Linked DNA regions of Homo sapiens. The protein of the gene in region 3 purifies or fractionates together with the protein of the main gene of each other region. This does not show direct contact. Each region holds a gene or a part of one and is shown on either strand. Other genes may lie near its edges.

Evidence for each region.
Region 1: the proteins of DCK (region 3) and KLK3 purify together in Homo sapiens (affinity purification with mass spectrometry; one large-scale study listed by BioGRID and IntAct). This does not show direct contact.
Region 2: the proteins of DCK (region 3) and DACH1 purify together in Homo sapiens (affinity purification with mass spectrometry; one large-scale study listed by BioGRID and IntAct). This does not show direct contact.
Region 4: the proteins of DCK (region 3) and THOP1 fractionate together in Homo sapiens (co-fractionation; one large-scale study listed by BioGRID). This does not show direct contact.

The regions. Positions count from the first base shown.
Region 1 is NC_000019.10:50,853,149-50,858,619, forward strand, and holds the start of KLK3 (prostate-specific antigen isoform 1 preproprotein), read left to right. Parts: upstream 1-1,766; 5' UTR 1,767-1,807; coding exon 1,808-1,853; intron 1,854-3,091; coding exon 3,092-3,251; intron 3,252-4,880; coding exon 4,881-5,167; intron 5,168-5,310; coding exon 5,311-5,447; intron 5,448-5,471. UniProt on the Homo sapiens protein: Hydrolyzes semenogelin-1 thus leading to the liquefaction of the seminal coagulum.
Region 2 is NC_000013.11:71,437,065-71,441,658, forward strand, and holds the end of DACH1 (dachshund homolog 1), read right to left. Parts: intron 3,629-4,594; coding exon 3,591-3,628; 3' UTR 902-3,590; downstream 1-901. UniProt on the Homo sapiens protein: Transcription factor that is involved in regulation of organogenesis. Seems to be a regulator of SIX1, SIX6 and probably SIX5.
Region 3 is NC_000004.12:71,017,276-71,021,999, forward strand, and holds part of DCK (deoxycytidine kinase), read left to right. Parts: intron 1-4,724. UniProt on the Homo sapiens protein: Phosphorylates the deoxyribonucleosides deoxycytidine, deoxyguanosine and deoxyadenosine. Has broad substrate specificity, and does not display selectivity based on the chirality of the substrate.
Region 4 is NC_000019.10:2,798,372-2,803,095, forward strand, and holds part of THOP1 (thimet oligopeptidase), read left to right. Parts: intron 1-1,317; coding exon 1,318-1,420; intron 1,421-3,659; exon of another isoform or gene 3,660-4,724. UniProt on the Homo sapiens protein: Involved in the metabolism of neuropeptides under 20 amino acid residues long. Involved in cytoplasmic peptide degradation. Able to degrade the amyloid-beta precursor protein and generate amyloidogenic fragments.

The DNA.
Region 1 (5,471 bases), on a different chromosome or scaffold from region 3:
GCTAATTTTTGTATTTTTAGTAGAGATGGGGTTTCACCAATGTTTGCCAGGCTGGCCTCGAACTCCTGACCTGGTGATCCACCTGCCTCAGCCTCCCAAAGTGCTGGGATTACAGGCGTCAGCCACCGCGCCCAGCCACTTTTGTCAAATTCTTGAGACACAGCTCGGGCTGGATCAAGTGAGCTACTCTGGTTTTATTGAACAGCTGAAATAACCAACTTTTTGGAAATTGATGAAATCTTACGGAGTTAACAGTGGAGGTACCAGGGCTCTTAAGAGTTCCCGATTCTCTTCTGAGACTACAAATTGTGATTTTGCATGCCACCTTAATCTTTTTTTTTTTTTTTTTAAATCGAGGTTTCAGTCTCATTCTATTTCCCAGGCTGGAGTTCAATGGCGTGATCACAGCTCACTGTAGCCTTGAACTCCTGGCCTTAAGAGATTCTCCTGCTTCGGTCTCCCAATAGCTAAGACTACAGTAGTCCACCACCATATCCAGATAATTTTTAAATTTTTTGGGGGGCCGGGCACAGTGGCTCACGCCTGTAATCCCAACACCATGGGAGGCTGAGATGGGTGGATCACGAGGTCAGGAGTTTGAGACCAGCCTGACCAACATGGTGAAACTCTGTCTCTACTAAAAAAAAAAAAAATAGAAAAATTAGCCGGGCGTGGTGGCACACGGCACCTGTAATCCCAGCTACTGAGGAGGCTGAGGCAGGAGAATCACTTGAACCCAGAAGGCAGAGGTTGCAATGAGCCGAGATTGCGCCACTGCACTCCAGCCTGGGTGACAGAGTGAGACTCTGTCTCAAAAAAAAAAAATTTTTTTTTTTTTTTTGTAGAGATGGATCTTGCTTTGTTTCTCTGGTTGGCCTTGAACTCCTGGCTTCAAGTGATCCTCCTACCTTGGCCTCGGAAAGTGTTGGGATTACAGGCGTGAGCCACCATGACTGACCTGTCGTTTAATCTTGAGGTACATAAACCTGGCTCCTAAAGGCTAAATATTTTGTTGGAGAAGGGGCATTGGATTTTGCATGAGGATGATTCTGACCTGGGAGGGCAGGTCAGCAGGCATCTCTGTTGCACAGATAGAGTGCACAGGTCTGGAGAACAAGGAGTGGGGGGTTATTGGAATTCCACATTGTTTGCTGCACGTTGGATTTTGAAATGCTAGGGAACTTTGGGAGACTCATATTTCTGGGCTAGAGGATCTGTGGACCACAAGATCTTTTTATGATGACAGTAGCAATGTATCTGTGGAGCTGGATTCTGGGTTGGGAGTGCAAGGAAAAGAATGTACTAAATGCCAAGACATCTATTTCAGGAGCATGAGGAATAAAAGTTCTAGTTTCTGGTCTCAGAGTGGTGCAGGGATCAGGGAGTCTCACAATCTCCTGAGTGCTGGTGTCTTAGGGCACACTGGGTCTTGGAGTGCAAAGGATCTAGGCACGTGAGGCTTTGTATGAAGAATCGGGGATCGTACCCACCCCCTGTTTCTGTTTCATCCTGGGCGTGTCTCCTCTGCCTTTGTCCCCTAGATGAAGTCTCCATGAGCTACAGGGCCTGGTGCATCCAGGGTGATCTAGTAATTGCAGAACAGCAAGTGCTAGCTCTCCCTCCCCTTCCACAGCTCTGGGTGTGGGAGGGGGTTGTCCAGCCTCCAGCAGCATGGGGAGGGCCTTGGTCAGCCTCTGGGTGCCAGCAGGGCAGGGGCGGAGTCCTGGGGAATGAAGGTTTTATAGGGCTCCTGGGGGAGGCTCCCCAGCCCCAAGCTTACCACCTGCACCCGGAGAGCTGTGTCACCATGTGGGTCCCGGTTGTCTTCCTCACCCTGTCCGTGACGTGGATTGGTGAGAGGGGCCATGGTTGGGGGGATGCAGGAGAGGGAGCCAGCCCTGACTGTCAAGCTGAGGCTCTTTCCCCCCCAACCCAGCACCCCAGCCCAGACAGGGAGCTGGGCTCTTTTCTGTCTCTCCCAGCCCCACTCCAAGCCCATACCCCCAGCCCCTCCATATTGCAACAGTCCTCACTCCCACACCAGGTCCCCGCTCCCTCCCACTTACCCCAGAACTTTCTCCCCATTGCCCAGCCAGCTCCCTGCTCCCAGCTGCTTTACTAAAGGGGAAGTTCCTGGGCATCTCCGTGTTTCTCTTTGTGGGGCTCAAAACCTCCAAGGACCTCTCTCAATGCCATTGGTTCCTTGGACCGTATCACTGGTCCACCTCCTGAGCCCCTCAATCCTATCACAGTCTACTGACTTTTCCCATTCAGCTGTGAGTGCCCAACCCTATCCCAGAGACCTTGATGCTTGGCCTCCCAATCTTGCCCTAGGATACCCAGATGCCAACCAGACACCTCCTTCTTCCTAGCCAGGCTATCTGGCCTGAGACAACAAATGGGTCCCTCAGTCTGGCAATGGGACTCTGAGAACTCCTCATTCCCTGACTCTTAGCCCCAGACTCTTCATTCAGTGGCCCACATTTTCCTTAGGAAAAACATGAGCATCCCCAGCCACAACTGCCAGCTCTCTGATTCCCCAAATCTGCATCCTTTTCAAAACCTAAAAACAAAAAGAAAAACAAATAAAACAAAACCAACTCAGACCAGAACTGTTTTCTCAACCTGGGACTTCCTAAACTTTCCAAAACCTTCCTCTTCCAGCAACTGAACCTCGCCATAAGGCACTTATCCCTGGTTCCTAGCACCGCTTATCCCCTCAGAATCCACAACTTGTACCAAGTTTCCCTTCTCCCAGTCCAAGACCCCAAATCACCACAAAGGACCCAATCCCCAGACTCAAGATATGGTCTGGGCGCTGTCTTGTGTCTCCTACCCTGATCCCTGGGTTCAACTCTGCTCCCAGAGCATGAAGCCTCTCCACCAGCACCAGCCACCAACCTGCAAACCTAGGGAAGATTGACAGAATTCCCAGCCTTTCCCAGCTCCCCCTGCCCATGTCCCAGGACTCCCAGCCTTGGTTCTCTGCCCCCGTGTCTTTTCAAACCCACATCCTAAATCCATCTCCTATCCGAGTCCCCCAGTTCCTCCTGTCAACCCTGATTCCCCTGATCTAGCACCCCCTCTGCAGGTGCTGCACCCCTCATCCTGTCTCGGATTGTGGGAGGCTGGGAGTGCGAGAAGCATTCCCAACCCTGGCAGGTGCTTGTGGCCTCTCGTGGCAGGGCAGTCTGCGGCGGTGTTCTGGTGCACCCCCAGTGGGTCCTCACAGCTGCCCACTGCATCAGGAAGTGAGTAGGGGCCTGGGGTCTGGGGAGCAGGTGTCTGTGTCCCAGAGGAATAACAGCTGGGCATTTTCCCCAGGATAACCTCTAAGGCCAGCCTTGGGACTGGGGGAGAGAGGGAAAGTTCTGGTTCAGGTCACATGGGGAGGCAGGGTTGGGGCTGGACCACCCTCCCCATGGCTGCCTGGGTCTCCATCTGTGTTCCTCTATGTCTCTTTGTGTCGCTTTCATTATGTCTCTTGGTAACTGGCTTCGGTTGTGTCTCTCCGTGTGACTATTTTGTTCTCTCTCTCCCTCTCTTCTCTGTCTTCAGTCTCCATATCTCCCCCTCTCTCTGTCCTTCTCTGGTCCCTCTCTAGCCAGTGTGTCTCACCCTGTATCTCTCTGCCAGGCTCTGTCTCTCGGTCTCTGTCTCACCTGTGCCTTCTCCCTACTGAGCACACGCATGGGATGGGCCTGGGGGGACCCTGAGAAAAGGAAGGGCTTTGGCTGGGCGCGGTGGCTCACACCTGTAATCCCAGCACTTTGGGAGGCCAAGGCAGGTAGATCACCTGAGGTCAGGAGTTCGAGACCAGCCTGGCCAACTGGTGAAACCCCATCTCTACTAAAAATACAAAAAATTAGCCAGGCGTGGTGGCGCATGCCTGTAGTCCCAGCTACTCAGGAGGCTGAGGGAGGAGAATTGCTTGAACCTGGGAGGTGGAGGTTGCAGTGAGCCGAGACCGTGCCACTGCACTCCAGCCTGGGTGACAGAGTGAGACTCCGCCTCAAAAAAAAAAAAAAAAAAAAAGAAAAGAAAAGAAAAGAAAAGGAAGTGTTTTATCCCTGATGTGTGTGGGTATGAGGGTATGAGAGGGCCCCTCTCACTCCATTCCTTCTCCAGGACATCCCTCCACTCTTGGGAGACACAGAGAAGGGCTGGTTCCAGCTGGAGCTGGGAGGGGCAATTGAGGGAGGAGGAAGGAGAAGGGGGAAGGAAAACAGGGTATGGGGGAAAGGACCCTGGGGAGCGAAGTGGAGGATACAACCTTGGGCCTGCAGGCCAGGCTACCTACCCACTTGGAAACCCACGCCAAAGCCGCATCTACAGCTGAGCCACTCTGAGGCCTCCCCTCCCCAGCGGTCCCCACTCAGCTCCAAAGTCTCTCTCCCTTTTCTCTCCCACACTCTATCATCCCCCGGATTCCTCTCTACTTGGTTCTCATTCTTCCTTTGACTTCCTGCTTCCCTTTCTCATTCATCTGTTTCTCACTTTCTGCCTGGTTTTGTTCTTCTCTCTCTCTTTCTCTGGCCCATGTCTGTTTCTCTATGTTTCTGTCTTTTCTTTCTCATCCTGTGTATTTTCGGCTCACCTTGTTTGTCACTGTTCTCCCCTCTGCCCTTTCATTCTCTCTGTCCTTTTACCCTCTTCCTTTTTCCCTTGGTTTCTCTCAGTTTCTGTATCTGCCCTTCACCCTCTCACACTGCTGTTTCCCAACTCGTTGTCTGTATTTTTGGCCTGAACTGTGTCTTCCCCAACCCTGTGTTTTTCTCACTGTTTCTTTTTCTCTTTTGGAGCCTCCTCCTTGCTCCTCTGTCCCTTCTCTCTTTCCTTATCATCCTCGCTCCTCATTCCTGCGTCTGCTTCCTCCCCAGCAAAAGCGTGATCTTGCTGGGTCGGCACAGCCTGTTTCATCCTGAAGACACAGGCCAGGTATTTCAGGTCAGCCACAGCTTCCCACACCCGCTCTACGATATGAGCCTCCTGAAGAATCGATTCCTCAGGCCAGGTGATGACTCCAGCCACGACCTCATGCTGCTCCGCCTGTCAGAGCCTGCCGAGCTCACGGATGCTGTGAAGGTCATGGACCTGCCCACCCAGGAGCCAGCACTGGGGACCACCTGCTACGCCTCAGGCTGGGGCAGCATTGAACCAGAGGAGTGTACGCCTGGGCCAGATGGTGCAGCCGGGAGCCCAGATGCCTGGGTCTGAGGGAGGAGGGGACAGGACTCCTAGGTCTGAGGGAGGAGGGCCAAGGAACCAGGTGGGGTCCAGCCCACAACAGTGTTTTTGCCTGGCCCGTAGTCTTGACCCCAAAGAAACTTCAGTGTGTGGACCTCCATGTTATTTCCAATGACGTGTGTGCGCAAGTTCACCCTCAGAAGGTGACCAAGTTCATGCTGTGTGCTGGACGCTGGACAGGGGGCAAAAGCACCTGCTCGGTGAGTCATCCCTACTCCCAAGAT
Region 2 (4,594 bases), on a different chromosome or scaffold from region 3:
GTGAACATTATAAATTTGCTAGTCTCAATGAAAACACATGGGGGCAAACCTAAATTATCACTGAGTTTCACTAACATCCAGAGACTGCATGATGTTCTAGTGCTAGTCTTACTGACATAAACATATGATGACAGAAGACAAAAATGTGCTTGTAATGGTCACATCATAAACGTTTTAGGTTTTATTAAGGAAAAAAATCATAATTTAATATACTGTTTCAAGAATTCATTAAAATCATACCTTTAGACAGAAAAATTCATTTTCCTTTCTCTTGGGAATGTTTAGAATATTCACAGAGATAGCAACCCGATAGTTCTTCAAATGCTGCACTTTTGATTGATTAAAGTGTTTATGTATTATTAAAGGATATTGTAATTTCAAAGTTTCTAAAGGCATTTTTTTTCCAAAGATAGAGATCAAAAGCAAAACACTGAGTTAGAGTTACAAATCTCCACTCATAGATATGGGAATAATATATTTTGTTCCATCAACATGTCTACTTTGCATTATTCAGCACAAAGCTTTGTGAAATAAGAATCATGGGAATATAAGAATATAAAGAAAAAAGGTACAAATAACAGCTTCATAAACTGAGAAATGTACATAAATAAATCATGTATATGTGGGCAGTTTGCTTAGCTGGCAAGAAACAAAATATGGAAAATCTGCTTGTTAAACAATAACTACAGAGTGTGCTTTTATGATGTTTTTCACCACAGTAATTCATATTAGAGATAGAAGCAGTTGCATGTTAAATAAAATCATTGAGCATTGTTCCCCTTGCATTGCAAAGAGCTGACTTGTGTTGTTTTTAGATGCCTCCCATTAGAAAGTAAATATTCCTTCAATGCTATGCATTTCACAAAATTTAATAAAGATGAACTGTAAATAAAGTCACAGGGAGATTTCAGACAGTTTTATTAGGAGATTGTTGAAAAGGAAAAGAAAATTAAATACAATAACAGTAAACGTGGTTCTCACATTGAAACCAGGCTCAAATAACTAGGCTACCATAGAAAAATTTCCAATTCTTGCATTATGATGTAAAAACAGATTTTTGTACAGATTTTGTACAACAAAATTCGTAATAACCTTTTATCATTTTTAGAAAACTTTAAATATATAGATAAAAATAGACAATTTTCATAGGTCCTACATGAAGATGAGTATGTTCTGTTCCAAGGGCTTGCATAGAGCGCAAATGTGGTTATAATATAGAACAACTAGACATTAATATTTTTAGGATTACAAAAGCATGGAAACCATAAAATGGGCACATTTTACTTGTTTATGCCAAAACACAAATTTCCAAACCAACCTGTATAACTAAAACAGGGAAAAAATTAAGTTACAGACTTACAATAACATTTCATGAATTGTAATATTTACAACATGTTAGTAAGAGTCTCTCTTAACATACAGCTGATAGCTTTTTTCTTTAATCCTTGCTAAAATTTCCTTTTATTTCAAATCAAACACTAAAGCATTCTCAAAGGTCTTCAAATATGTATTTTAAAACTATTTAATCCACATAACAAACAGGTGACTCTATGCCAGGAGCAGAGCAATGGCTGATTCTACTACATATGTAAGTTGTAGGCTTTTTTAAAAATCTTTCAAAAAATGTATGATGCAAAAAGCTTGACACAAGTCCATTCAATTTTAAGTGTTGTAATCCTTTAAAGACTGCATATAGGGAAACAAACACATAGAACTAGGAAAAGAATCCCTTGTGCTCAAACAACAAAAGGTGGTTATGGAAGAACTATGCTTAGAAAACCAAGTTTCTACAAATCATTTACTAGCAATACTTTAAATAAAAATAATGCTCCCTTTGTAAGCAAGCTAAAATAGGAACTGTACATATAACCTTTTTATGGTATTAAAAAGATGAACTTAGCTGGCTAATAGTGAGCTACACAAAAGAATTATGTTCCAGTATTGCAAGGAAGACCTAAAAGGTATAGAAGCGTAATGCCAGAGTATCTATAATGTTAATTTTTTCTTAATCAAGTAATTAATACCCAATCAGAACTATATTTAAACATTTTAAGCTAGTTTTCTTAGACATTGAAGATTTTGCTGTTTTGTGGTAATAAATAATGTTACGATCATACAATTTTAAGATGACAGAAAAATCATAAAATGTATAGTGACCGTACTGATTCATATCAGTCTTTAAAGGTGTAATTCCAGATATGCAAAAAACAAAGAGAAGGTAACTTTAGCATGTAATAAGCACTGTTTGCCGCTTTACTTCCAGTTATCTGCACGAAAGTGAAAACACATACTGTAACTTTCAAAAAGACAGTGAAAATAACACATAGCCACCCTTCCCTCTGACAAGGGTGGGAAGCACAGCACATTTTAACTTTATCACTCAGCGCTACATGGTATTGGACTGGTACATCAAGGTTTGTTAGGTTTTGTTTTCAGCAACATTAACATAATATGACGTTAACATATAAAAATATTTCTGGTGTTTTGATTTGCTGTTCAGCCACAATCCATTCCCAATAGTGCAGCTTGGGGCACTAGCTAGGGTTCAATATACAAATAAAAGTGGCTGACACAGAGTTCTGATGTCACCAGATGCTTAAGATCTCATTCATTAATACTGTGACTCCAGACAAATATTTACATGCCTGCATGCGTTAAAACCAGAAAGACATCTTTCTGACCAACAGGGTGACAAAACATATTTTCTAAAATTTTCATTTTCCTAAACTCTAGTATACTACTGCATACATAATACCTTCCTTGTGTGTTTTATGTTTATATACTGTACATATGACCAACAGTTTGAATAAGAAGCAACATTATTATCTTTAATTCTACATACCACTACCAGTTTGGAATGAAAACATGTTACACTTATATATTTTTTTTTATTTTTAAGAAAAAAAAACCTTCAGTGAAAGCTTTTGGCTTATATTCAATGCTTCTTTTCAGATATGCAAAATGTTATTTCATTGGGTTGTTGTCAACATCCATTTGTTGGTCTTTTGGAAAGTATGTGAAAAAAAATTCTTCAGGAGAAAACCCACAATTAGAGAGTTTGAAATTGAATGTAACAGAAAATCACTCTTGCATTTTTTTTTTTCAAGAATCCTCTATGCCCCCTACAAGTTCATTCGTTCATTCCAAGTGTTCTTGCTGGTTTCTGGAGGACATAATTCTGTAAGTCTGGGTAACCACTGCTACAAGAGTCTCTTGATGTGCTCAGATACAGAATTTTCAGAAGAGGAAAATGGTTCATTCCATTAGAAAAAAACAAAGCTAGGTCTTATTCAGACCTGCCTTTAACTCTGTATACAATTGTCCAGCAGCAAGTTGCAGTAATTAACTGTAAGAACTTTGATACTTGTACATTTACAAACATTCTCAGGTCTCTGGTATGAACCACAGGTGAAAATCAATGGAGAAAACTTTTTTTTTTTTTGTAGAATACTTAAACTTTTAAAGAACATTAATACACAAAATTCAGGAAGTTCCCTTAAAAGGACTTTATTTTTTTCTGAACTTTCCCATGACGAATGTCTGACTGCAAAGTTCTTTTCTATAACATGGATTTCTTCAACAGGAAAGATTCAGTACATGACAGTAGTTTTCAAATACAGTCTTCCATCTAGAAATGAACAGTGAAAAATTAATTAATGGCATGGTATTTGGGGTACAAATGTGCATGTAAAAATGATGTAACTTGATATAAAATTTGTAGTTTTTATTAGATCTTTACTTGGTTAAGAAGTAACATTTTTCATATCTTCTCAAAGTTAAGTTAATTTCATAATTACACTGAGTTTATGTGACTGAAAAGAATACAGCATTTCTACTTCTCATAAATATATATTTGCTATTTTGATATCAGTTCCAGAGCACTCAGAAAATAGCTAAGAGTATGTGTGTGTATTTTACTGATATGCAAAGTTAGTTGATTTCTGTTGAATAACAATTACTTCCTTCAAGCTTGCAGAACCAAATTTTCTCTGAATGCACTCAGGTGTATCTCCATCAGGAAAGACTGAACTCCCATCTTACTCTTTAGCAGTGTTGTTAAATATACCATGTAATGTAACTATTGTGCACATTCGTTGCTATTTATATGAAAGCCAGCTAGGTTATTTCATCACTGTCAATGAACTATAGCCTTTACCCCTTGAAGTGAGATTCATCCAACAATTAAATATTAAAATGTAAACACTGTATATTATTCAACTTTTACTAATGAGCAAACACACAGTTGTGTGAAAAAGAAAAGGAAATCAAATCTTAGAGACATCGAATAAATCCATTTGAATGAAGCACTAATAAGAAATAGGAAATTAAAAGTCCAAACCAAAAATAAAACAATAACAATACCAAACATAAGCATATTTCTCAAATATTTAATACCCTCTAAACTGTCTACTTCCTGGTATGGCCTAAACTTTGTATATATTTGTCTAATATATGTCTGAAATTCAAATTTTAATATGTACAGTAGAAAGGAGAACAATCAGAAAAGGAAAGTTTTCCGAGCTTTGAAAAGTACATATTGCCATGTAAATGTTTGCAAAATGTCTGGTAACTGGAAGAATTAAAATATAAGAAA
Region 3 (4,724 bases):
GACAACAGGTGCTGCAGAGGATGTGGAGAAATGGGAACACTTTTCCACTGTTGGTGGGACTGTAAACTAGTTCAACCATGTGTAAGACAGTGTGGTGATTCCTCAAGGATCTAGAACTAGAAATACCATTTGACCCAGCCATCCCATTAGTGGGTATATACCCAAAGGATTATAAATCATGCTGCTATACAGACACATGCACACATATGTTTATTGCGGCACTGTTCACAATAGCAAAGACTTGGAACCAACCCAGATGTCCATCAGTAATAGACTGGATTAAGAAAATGTGGCACATATACACCATGGAATACTATGCAGCCATAAAAAAGGATGAGTTAATGTCCTTTGTAGGGACATAGATGAAGCTGGAAACCATCATTCTCAGCAAACTGTCGCAGGGAAAAAAAACAAAACACTGCATGTTCTCACTCATAGGTGGGAATTGAACAATGAGAACTCTTGGACACAGGAATGTGAACATCACACACTGGGGCCTGTTGTGGGGTGGGGGGAGGGGGGAGGGATAGCATTAGGAGAAATACCTAATGTAAATGGCGAGTTAATGGGTGCAGTACACCAACATGGCACATGTATACATATGTAACAAACCTGCACGTTGTGCACATGTACCCAAGAACTTAAAGTATAAAAAAAAAATTTATATATCAGGGCAATTAAAATCGTTGTTAAAAATTTACTGTAAATGATTTTTAACAGCAGCCTAATTTATTGTATGCATGTACTATTATTTACTTAATATAAATGCCTAATAATAGTGGAATGATAACCTATTCGCTTAGCCTTGTGATAAATACCTTTGTGGTTAAATTTGTATTCTAGATTATTTCTTTTTTTTTTTTTTTTTTGAGACGGAGTCTCGCTCTGTCTCCCAGGCTGGAGTGCAGTGGCGCCATCTCAACTTGCTGCAAGCTCCGCCTCCCAGGTTCACATCATTCTTGTGCCTCAGCCTCCCGAGTAGCTGAGACTACAGGCGCCTGCCACCATGCCCCGCTATTTTTTTTGGTATTTTTAGTAGAGACAGGGTTTCACCGTGTTAGCCAGGATGGTCTCGATCTCCTGACCTTGTGATCCACCCGCCTTGGCCTCCCAAAGTGCTAGGATCACAGGCGTGAGCCACTGCGCCCGGCCTAGATTATTTCTTTAAAGTAAATTTTCAACAGTGGAATTAATTGGGCCAAAAGGTACAGGTTTTTTTTTTCCCACAAATGTAGCTAAACTGCTTTCTATCTAACCATGTTCTACCAATTTGTATTTAATGTAGTTTCACTCTGACACATTCATATTTTTTATCTGGATAGTTTGCAGAGGGGAGAACTTGATAAAATTAACATTCAGTTTGGTAAAGATGATGCACAGTATTTTTTAGATTTTTTTTTTTTTTTTTTTTTTGAGACAAGAGTCTTGCTCTGTTACCCAGGCTGGAGTGCAGTGGCACAATCTTGGCTCACTGCAGCCTCCACCTCCCAGGCATAAGCAATTCTCCCACCTCAACCTCCGGAGTAGCTGGGATTACAGGTGCACGCCACCATACCTGGCTAATTTTTGTATTTTTTGTAGAGACAGGGTTTCGCCATGTTGCCCAGGCTGGTCTGGAACTCCTGAGCTTAAGTGATCCGCCTGCCTCGGACTCCCAAAGTGCTGGGATTACAGGCCTGAGCTGCCTCACCTGGCTGGATAAATTTTTAATATTCTTAACATTTATAATTGCATACAAAAAACCCTAGCAATTTGTCTCAAATTTCATGCATAGGATCAAAAGAAAATGTTTTATATGACTCATAAGTTATCCTGAGGAACCAGATAATGATACCCTGGCTTACTGTTAATTTTCTAATTTGTTACACTATTAAACTAAGAGACAATAACATCTTCATAGCTGAAAATTCTATTTCAGATTTTTGATTCAGTTTGAATTTACATATTTGTATTTTTAGAACTAGTTTATTATTTTTTTGTTAGGTGATGAATCAAGATTGGTTCTCTAAGTTATTTTAATATAGTAAACTTTGAAATTGCTTTGGGCAAGAGAGATTATATTTATTGAGAAATTAAAATAAAAGGAGGTATGTGGTCTTTTTTAGTTAATTTTTTTGTTGTGGCAAAAATATAAAATTTATCATCTGAACCATTTTTAAGTATACAGCTCAGTAGTATTATAAGCATATTTAGGTCATTATGAACAGATCTCCAGAACTTTAGCCTCCTGAAAAGATCCAGAGACCCCTGGAGCTTCTCCTACTATACTTTGAAGAACCTCTATCTTAGAGAATATATTACTTCATCTGGAAAAGACAGACTCACAGAGAACTCTAGAAATATAGTCTTTTAAAACATATCATCTAAAAGATTAATAATTCTTTTTATCATCTTATCCGGTCTGTGTTCATATTTCCCCATTGTCTAATAATGTTTTCGTAATTTTTTGAAATTAGGAGCCAAACCAGGTTCACACACGTTACATTTGGTGGTTGATATACCTTTTATTTTTTTTTAAATTTATTTTTCTGAGATGAAGTCTTGCTCTGTCACCCAGGCTGAAGTACAGTGCATGATCTCAGCTCACGGCAACTTCTGCCTCCCCAGTTCAAGTGATTCTCCTGTCTCAGCCTCCCGAGTAGCTAGGATTACAGGCGCGTGCCACCACGCCTGGCTAATTTTTTATATTTTTGGTAGAGACAGGGTTTCACCATGTTGGCCAAGCTGGTCTTGAACTCCTGATCTCAGGTGATCTGCCTGCCTCGGCCTCCCAAAGTGTTGGGATTACAGGCGTGAACCACTGGGCCTGCCCTTGATATGCCTTTTAAATTTTAATCTATTGATTGTCTCTTTGTTTATAATTTATTTGTTGAAGAAACAGGGTCATTTGTTCTACATAATTTTCCTCATTCTGGTTTTGGCTGAGTGTATCTCTGGTAAAATTTAACATGTTTTTCAGTTCTCTGTATTTCCAGTAAATTTATAGGTAGAGACAGGCTTGATTAGATTTACTTTCAATTCTTTTTTGGCAAGATTCCTAGTTGGTGATGTGTATTTCTTTACATCAAGAAGATGTGTTTTGTGATGTTAAAATCAAACAGTTTAGCTGTTGTCAGATTGATTCATCCGTTGTAAAATTCCCAATTAACTTTTCTCTAATGATAGCATCTATTGCTAATTGTTGCCTCATTGCAGTATATTAGTAGGTGTTGTAAAAGGTGATATTCCTTCTCCAGCCTTCTGAATTTATTGGCTGGGATTCTTCAGGAAAGAAGACCTCTTCCTCATATACCACTTTATTACCCTGAAAGTATTTATACAGGAAAGGCCAAAATAAAATGGGACTTTTTTTTTCTTTTTACCTACATATTCCCAGAATAATTAATTTGTGCCTTAGGAGCCTCAAAACATGACTAGAGTTTTGTTTGTTTGTTTAGAATTATAAACTCATGGATTTTTGCCTCCCATTCATTTTCGATGTTCAAATTATTCTTTCTTTGACCAGTGGCAGCTTATTTATGTTGGCTCCTTTGTCCTTGGCACAATCCCAGTGGTCTGTAGTAGTTTCCTAAAATATACAAGATGAAGCTCATCTTGTATATTTTCTTCCCCAGATTTAGAATCAGAATTCTAATTCCTTTCAGTGGGAAATGGTATTTAGAGATTATAATCTGGGTGATATTTTTGTATATTCCTACAATGTTGTCATTGTTTATAGGCCTTTTGATGGACAGAACTAGGAAAACTTTATAGAAAGAGAAAAATAATTCATGTGTTCCAGATGCTATTTCTTTTTTTTTTTTTTTTTTTTGAGACGGAGTCTCGCTCTGTCGCCCAGGCTGGACTGCGGACTGCAGTGGCGCAATCTCGGCTCACTGCAAGCTCCGCTTCCCGGGTTCACGCCATTCTCCTGCCTCAGCCTCCCCAGTAGCTGGGACTACAGGCGCCCGCCACCGCGCCCGGCTAATTTTTTGTATTTTTAGTAGAGACGGGGTTTCACCTTGTTAGCCAGGATGGTCTCGATCTCCTGACCTCATGATCCACCCGCCTCGGCCTCCCAAAGTGCTGGGATTACAGGCGTGAGCCACCGCGCCCGGCCTGCTATTTCTAACTCAGATAAAAGATGATAAGAGTTTTTACTTCATTTTAAAATTTACATTTGTATTTTTCCTCAACATGTAAAATGTGGTTCTAACAATAAGATTATTGAATTGCAAAATCTGGGGCAGGAACTATTGTATTATATTAGAAGATTGGAGGGTTACAAATACAAATGCCTAAAGGGGCCAGACAGCCAAATGAATATATCAGGCCTGTTATGAAAATCATCCGGGAATGGTGGGGATTAATAAGCCAGAGAGCATATATCCCATCTAAAGGAGGCATCTGTGACTTGATTCTAGCTGATTTTTGCCAAGAGGGAATATGGGCATGGTACTGCTTGGTTTTTTCATTTTTAAAAAGAAGACGTAATCCCTGCACTTTGGGAGGCCAAGGCAGGCAGATCATGAGGTCAGGAGATGGAGACCATCCTGGCTAACACGGTGAAACCCCGTCTCTACTAAAAATGTAAAAAATTAGTTGGGCATGGTGGCACGCGCCTGTAGTCCCAGCTACTTGGGAGGCTGAGGCGGGAGAATTGCTTGAACCTGGTAGGTGGAGGTTGCAGTGAGCTGAAATCGTGCCACTGCACTCCAGCTGGGGCAACAGAGCAAGACTCCATC
Region 4 (4,724 bases), on a different chromosome or scaffold from region 3:
GTGGCCATGTGCATGGTAGAAGCCACAAACTCTCCCACAAGGGCCAGCAAGCAAGGAGGGAGCAGAGGCAGCCCCGCCTGGAGGACAGAAGCGCGGAAAAGGTGCGAGGTCCGGATGCTGGCGAGCAGAGTTCCAGCGCGTCCCCGCGGCCCTTAGGGCCAGCGCTGTGTGCTCATTGAGTCTCCAGAGCCTTCCCTGGCATGGCTGGGTTTGTTATGTGAGATGGCAAGAGGGGGAGACATTGGGAATTGCCCAGCATGGGGCCTGTTCCCAGGAGAGGCCCAGCAAACCCTCAGCTGGTTCTGAACCAGGGCCTTCCTGACAAGATACAGGCTCCCTGCAAAGTCCTGGGCACAGTTTCCCCCTGCTGCCGCCCTCTGTCCTGCGGATGAGCATTTCTGCTCTGGCCCCATGGAGCTGGGCTCCAGACCCGCCTGGCGGAGCTTCCAGCAGGAGAATCTGAGTCAAAGTACAGCCCTGCTGCCAGCCTGTCATGTGTCATGTGGCCTCAAGCCAGGTCCTTGTCACATAGTGGTCACCTCCCAGCCTTCAAGGCCACCAGAGGGACCACTCAAGATTCAGTTCCTTTGTTGATATCCCATATCACCAGGGTCGAGTTTTAGCTGTTTCTAAAACCAGCTTTACCAGATAAGGGGTAAAATGTTCAAAAGCTGCCAGACACGGTGACTCATGCCTGTAATCCCAGCACTTTGGGAGGCTGAGGTGGGAGGATTGCTTGAGCCCAGGAGTTCGAAACCAGCCTGAGCAACATGGTGAAACCCCGTCTGTACCAAACATACAAAAATTAGCTGGGTGTAGTGGCGTGTACCTGTAGTCCTAGCTACTCAGGAGGCTAAGGCAGGAGGATCAATTGAGTTGGGAGGTTGAGGCTGCAGTGAGTCGAGATCATGCCACTGCATTCCAGCCTGGGCAACAGAGCGAGTCCCTGTCTCAGAAGAATGTTGAAAAGCTTAGGCTGCAGGCTCTGAAGGTGATTCCTTAATGGATAGGAGGGTCTGGAGCACTCTTGGCCAGGGCCACACCTGACAGACCGGAGCACATCCCTGAGGTTGCCCGAGGTCACCCAGCTTTGGATGCCGCAGCTGGTGTTGAAATCCACACTGCGCAGCCTCGTGGCCTCCGTGTCTGTCTGTCCTCCGCCTCCCGTCTCACTCTTTCCTCCTCGGTTGCCTCTTCTTTCGGCCTGGTTCTTGGGGAAATCCCTCAGCCCTCGGCGAGAGGGTTCCCAGGCGTTGCGTCTCCCCGCGGAGCCCGCCCCGGTCTCTCCCTCCCCTCACGCCCCGCCTTTCTCTCCAGAACATCAAACGCATCAAGAAGAAGCTGAGCCTTCTGTGCATCGACTTCAACAAGAACCTGAACGAGGACACGACCTTCCTGCCCTTCACGCTCCAGGAGCTAGGTAGGGGCCGAGCAGTGGGGCACGGGTGGCCATCGGTCCTGGGACTCAGTGCAGGCCTGCCAGGCCCTCGGGGGCCGCCGCTTCCTCCTGTGGGCTTCTGTGCTGAAGGGCGGCGGGAGGCCGAAGTACGTGGACCTGACCGCCCTGGGCTGAGGACTTTCCTCACCGGAAGCGCTCCAGGGCCGTTTACAGCCAAAAGCTCTGAGCCCTCCTTGGGGAGGGCCATGGTCTGTCCCACCAAGATTCCACCCTGATAGAAAATGTCCCTGGCAGTGGCGGAAGCCCAGGCCGGACGGGGTGGCCAAGGGTGCCAGTCTCAGCCATGGCCCTGAGGGAACCACAATTTTCCCTTGAGACCCCACTTCCTGCCTGCCTTTATTTATTTAATTTAATTAATTAATTAATTTATTTTGAGATGGAGTCTTGCTCTGTTGCCCAGGCTGGAGTGCAGTGGTGCGACCTCCACTCACTGCAACCTCCGTCCCCCGGGTTCAAGTGATTCTCCTGTCTCAGCCTCCTGAGTAGCTGGGACTACAGACGTATGCCATCACACCTGGCAAATTTTTTTATTTTTAGTAGAGACGGTTTCGCCGTGTTGGCCAGGGTGGTCTCAGACTCCTGGGCTCAGGATCTGCCTGCCTCAACCTCCCAAAGTTCTGGGATTACAGGCATGAGCCACCGTGCCCAGGCAGGCCGGAATATTCTGATGGGTGCTATAGAATATAACCTCCAGTTCTAGACTCTGAATGTAGTTGCCTCTGAGGTGGTGGGTGGGGACAAGGCCCTCATGGCCGGAGGCCTCCGCAGGTGGCTTGATGTGTGGTCACCTGGGCGTATGTTTCCTGAGGGAACACTCGCAGGTCGGGCACTGCCAAGCTTGGCTGCCAGCCACTTGCTCAGCCCTCCCGTGTCTCGGGCAGCACATCCTACCCTCAGCTTCTGGCACTCAGGAGAGACGACGGGCTACAATCTGCCGTAAAGCACGTTTCCCAGCCTGCCCCTCAGTGGGTGCACTGATCACCCGCACCATTCCCGCAGCCACCCACGCCATCCCGCGGCCACCCGCACCGTCCCCGCGGCCACCCGCACCATCCCCGTGGGGCTGCTTCTCCTGCCTGCTCGTGTTAGCAAGCAGAAGGACTCGGTGCCTGATGTTCTAGAAGCCAATGCCATGGCACCAAGGATTTGAGGAAACAAAAGCTTCTCATTGCAAGTGACTCCCAAGGAGACTGGGCGTCCAGCTCAAATCTGCCTCCTGTGCCAGCTTTCAGGCAGTACTTTCATGAGAGAAGGTGCAGAGGTGGATTCTGGGATTAGCAGGTGATTGTTGGAAGGAAAGGGGAGGTCTGGAAGGTCCTTGGGCACGCACAGTTATCTGTCCGTGCCAGCTCGTGGGTCCTGGGTGTGAATCCTGGGGAAGTCTGTATGAAGCGCGGTGGAAGTTCAGTTGGCATCAGCCAGCTGGTTCTGCACAGACTCTGCTGGCTCATGTGGGTTCCAGCCGGTTTCAGCCAGTTTTGTTCTTGTCGGCGTTTCAGCTGCCTGTTTCTTTTCACGTTTGCCATCCTGCAAACTCGAATGTTTGTGGATTTTGGTGTCTAACTCTTTGGGGTGCCGTTCCATTTGTCGGGCCTGAGGGGTCTCCCGTGCAGGTGGCTTGAGTCCCATGTGGCCAGGTGACACCGTCATGCGGGTGGCTAGCGTGTTGGGTGACAGTCTCCAGGGCTGTCCGCTGCTGCTGCCCCGGGACCTGTTTCCCTTTGTGGTCCGTCATTTCTCAGGAGACGCCTTGCGATGGTCTTAGTTCCTTTTCTTCTGCTTACAACAGAAAACCTAAGGCCATGTAGTTTATAAGAAAAGGAATTAACTTGTCACAGCTCTGGAGGCTGAGAAGTCCCAGGTCGAGGGGCCATATCTGGCCAGGGCCTTCTTCCTGGTGGGGACTCTGGAGCCCTGAGGCGGCCAGGGTGTCACATGGCAAGGGGAGGGGGCTAAGCGAGCCGGTTCCACCCAGGTCTCTCCTCCTCACAAAGCCCCAGGCCCTCTGCCACATTAACCCATCTGTCCCTTCATCCATGAATCCATGAATGGATTCATCCATTCCTGAAGGCAGAGGCCACATGACCCAGCTGCCTCTTGAAGGCCCCAGTACCTAATCCTGCCATCTCCCAATACCACCATCTCCAACACCGCCATCTCCCGATACCCACATCTCCCAATACCCACATCTCCCGATACCGCTACCTCTCAATACCGCCACCTCCCAACACTGCCATCTCCCGATACCCACATCTCCCAATACTGCTACCTCTCAATACCACCACCTCCAACACCACCATCTCCAACACTGCCACCTCCAACACCACCATCTCCAACACCGCCACCTCCAACACCGCCGTCTCCCGATACCTCCACCTCCGGACACCCCCACCTCCTGACCCACCCACCTCCCAACACCAACACCTCCCGACACACCCACCTCCCGACACCCCCACCTCCCAATACCAACACCTCCCGACACCCCCACTTCCCGACACCCCCACCTCCCGACACCAACACCTCCCAACACCAACACTTCCCCACACCCCCACCTCCCAACACTAACACCTCCTGACACCCCCACCTCCCGACACCCCCACCTCCCAACACCAACACCTCCCGACACCCCCACCTCCCGACACCAACACCTCCCGACACCAACACCTCCCGACACCAACACCTCACGACACCCACACCTCCCGACACCAACACCTCCCGACACCAACACCTTCCGACACCCCCACCTCCCGACACCGCCACCTCCCGATACCCGCATCTCCCGACACCACCATCTCTGGCATTAAGTTCCTGGTGCATTTTGGAGGGGACGCACCCAACCAGAGCAGAGACCTGTGAGTGTCCATCACTCGCACATTGTCATACACTAGTTGCCATGTCCATGGATGACTTCTGCCGCCCTCACCCTCTGGGCATCAGTCATCCTGCCGTGACTCCGAACCTTCCCTCCTTGCCTGTCTTCTTACTGATTTGTTTCTGTCCGTGTGCATGAGGCTTCTGTCTTATTCCCGGGTTATCATTCATTATCATTTATCCCAGTGCTCAAATCGTCCCACATGGACCCTCAGGAGTCCCTCCGAACAATCCCTGTGTCCTTGTAATGCACCTGCTGTCCTCTGAACCTGCTCTTACTGTGGGGCACATGGTACCGCAGGCTCGGCCTCTGAGCCCGCGCTTACTGTGGGGCGCGCGGTACCGCAGGCTCGGCCTCTGAGCCCACTCTTACTGTTGGACATGTGATGTCGCA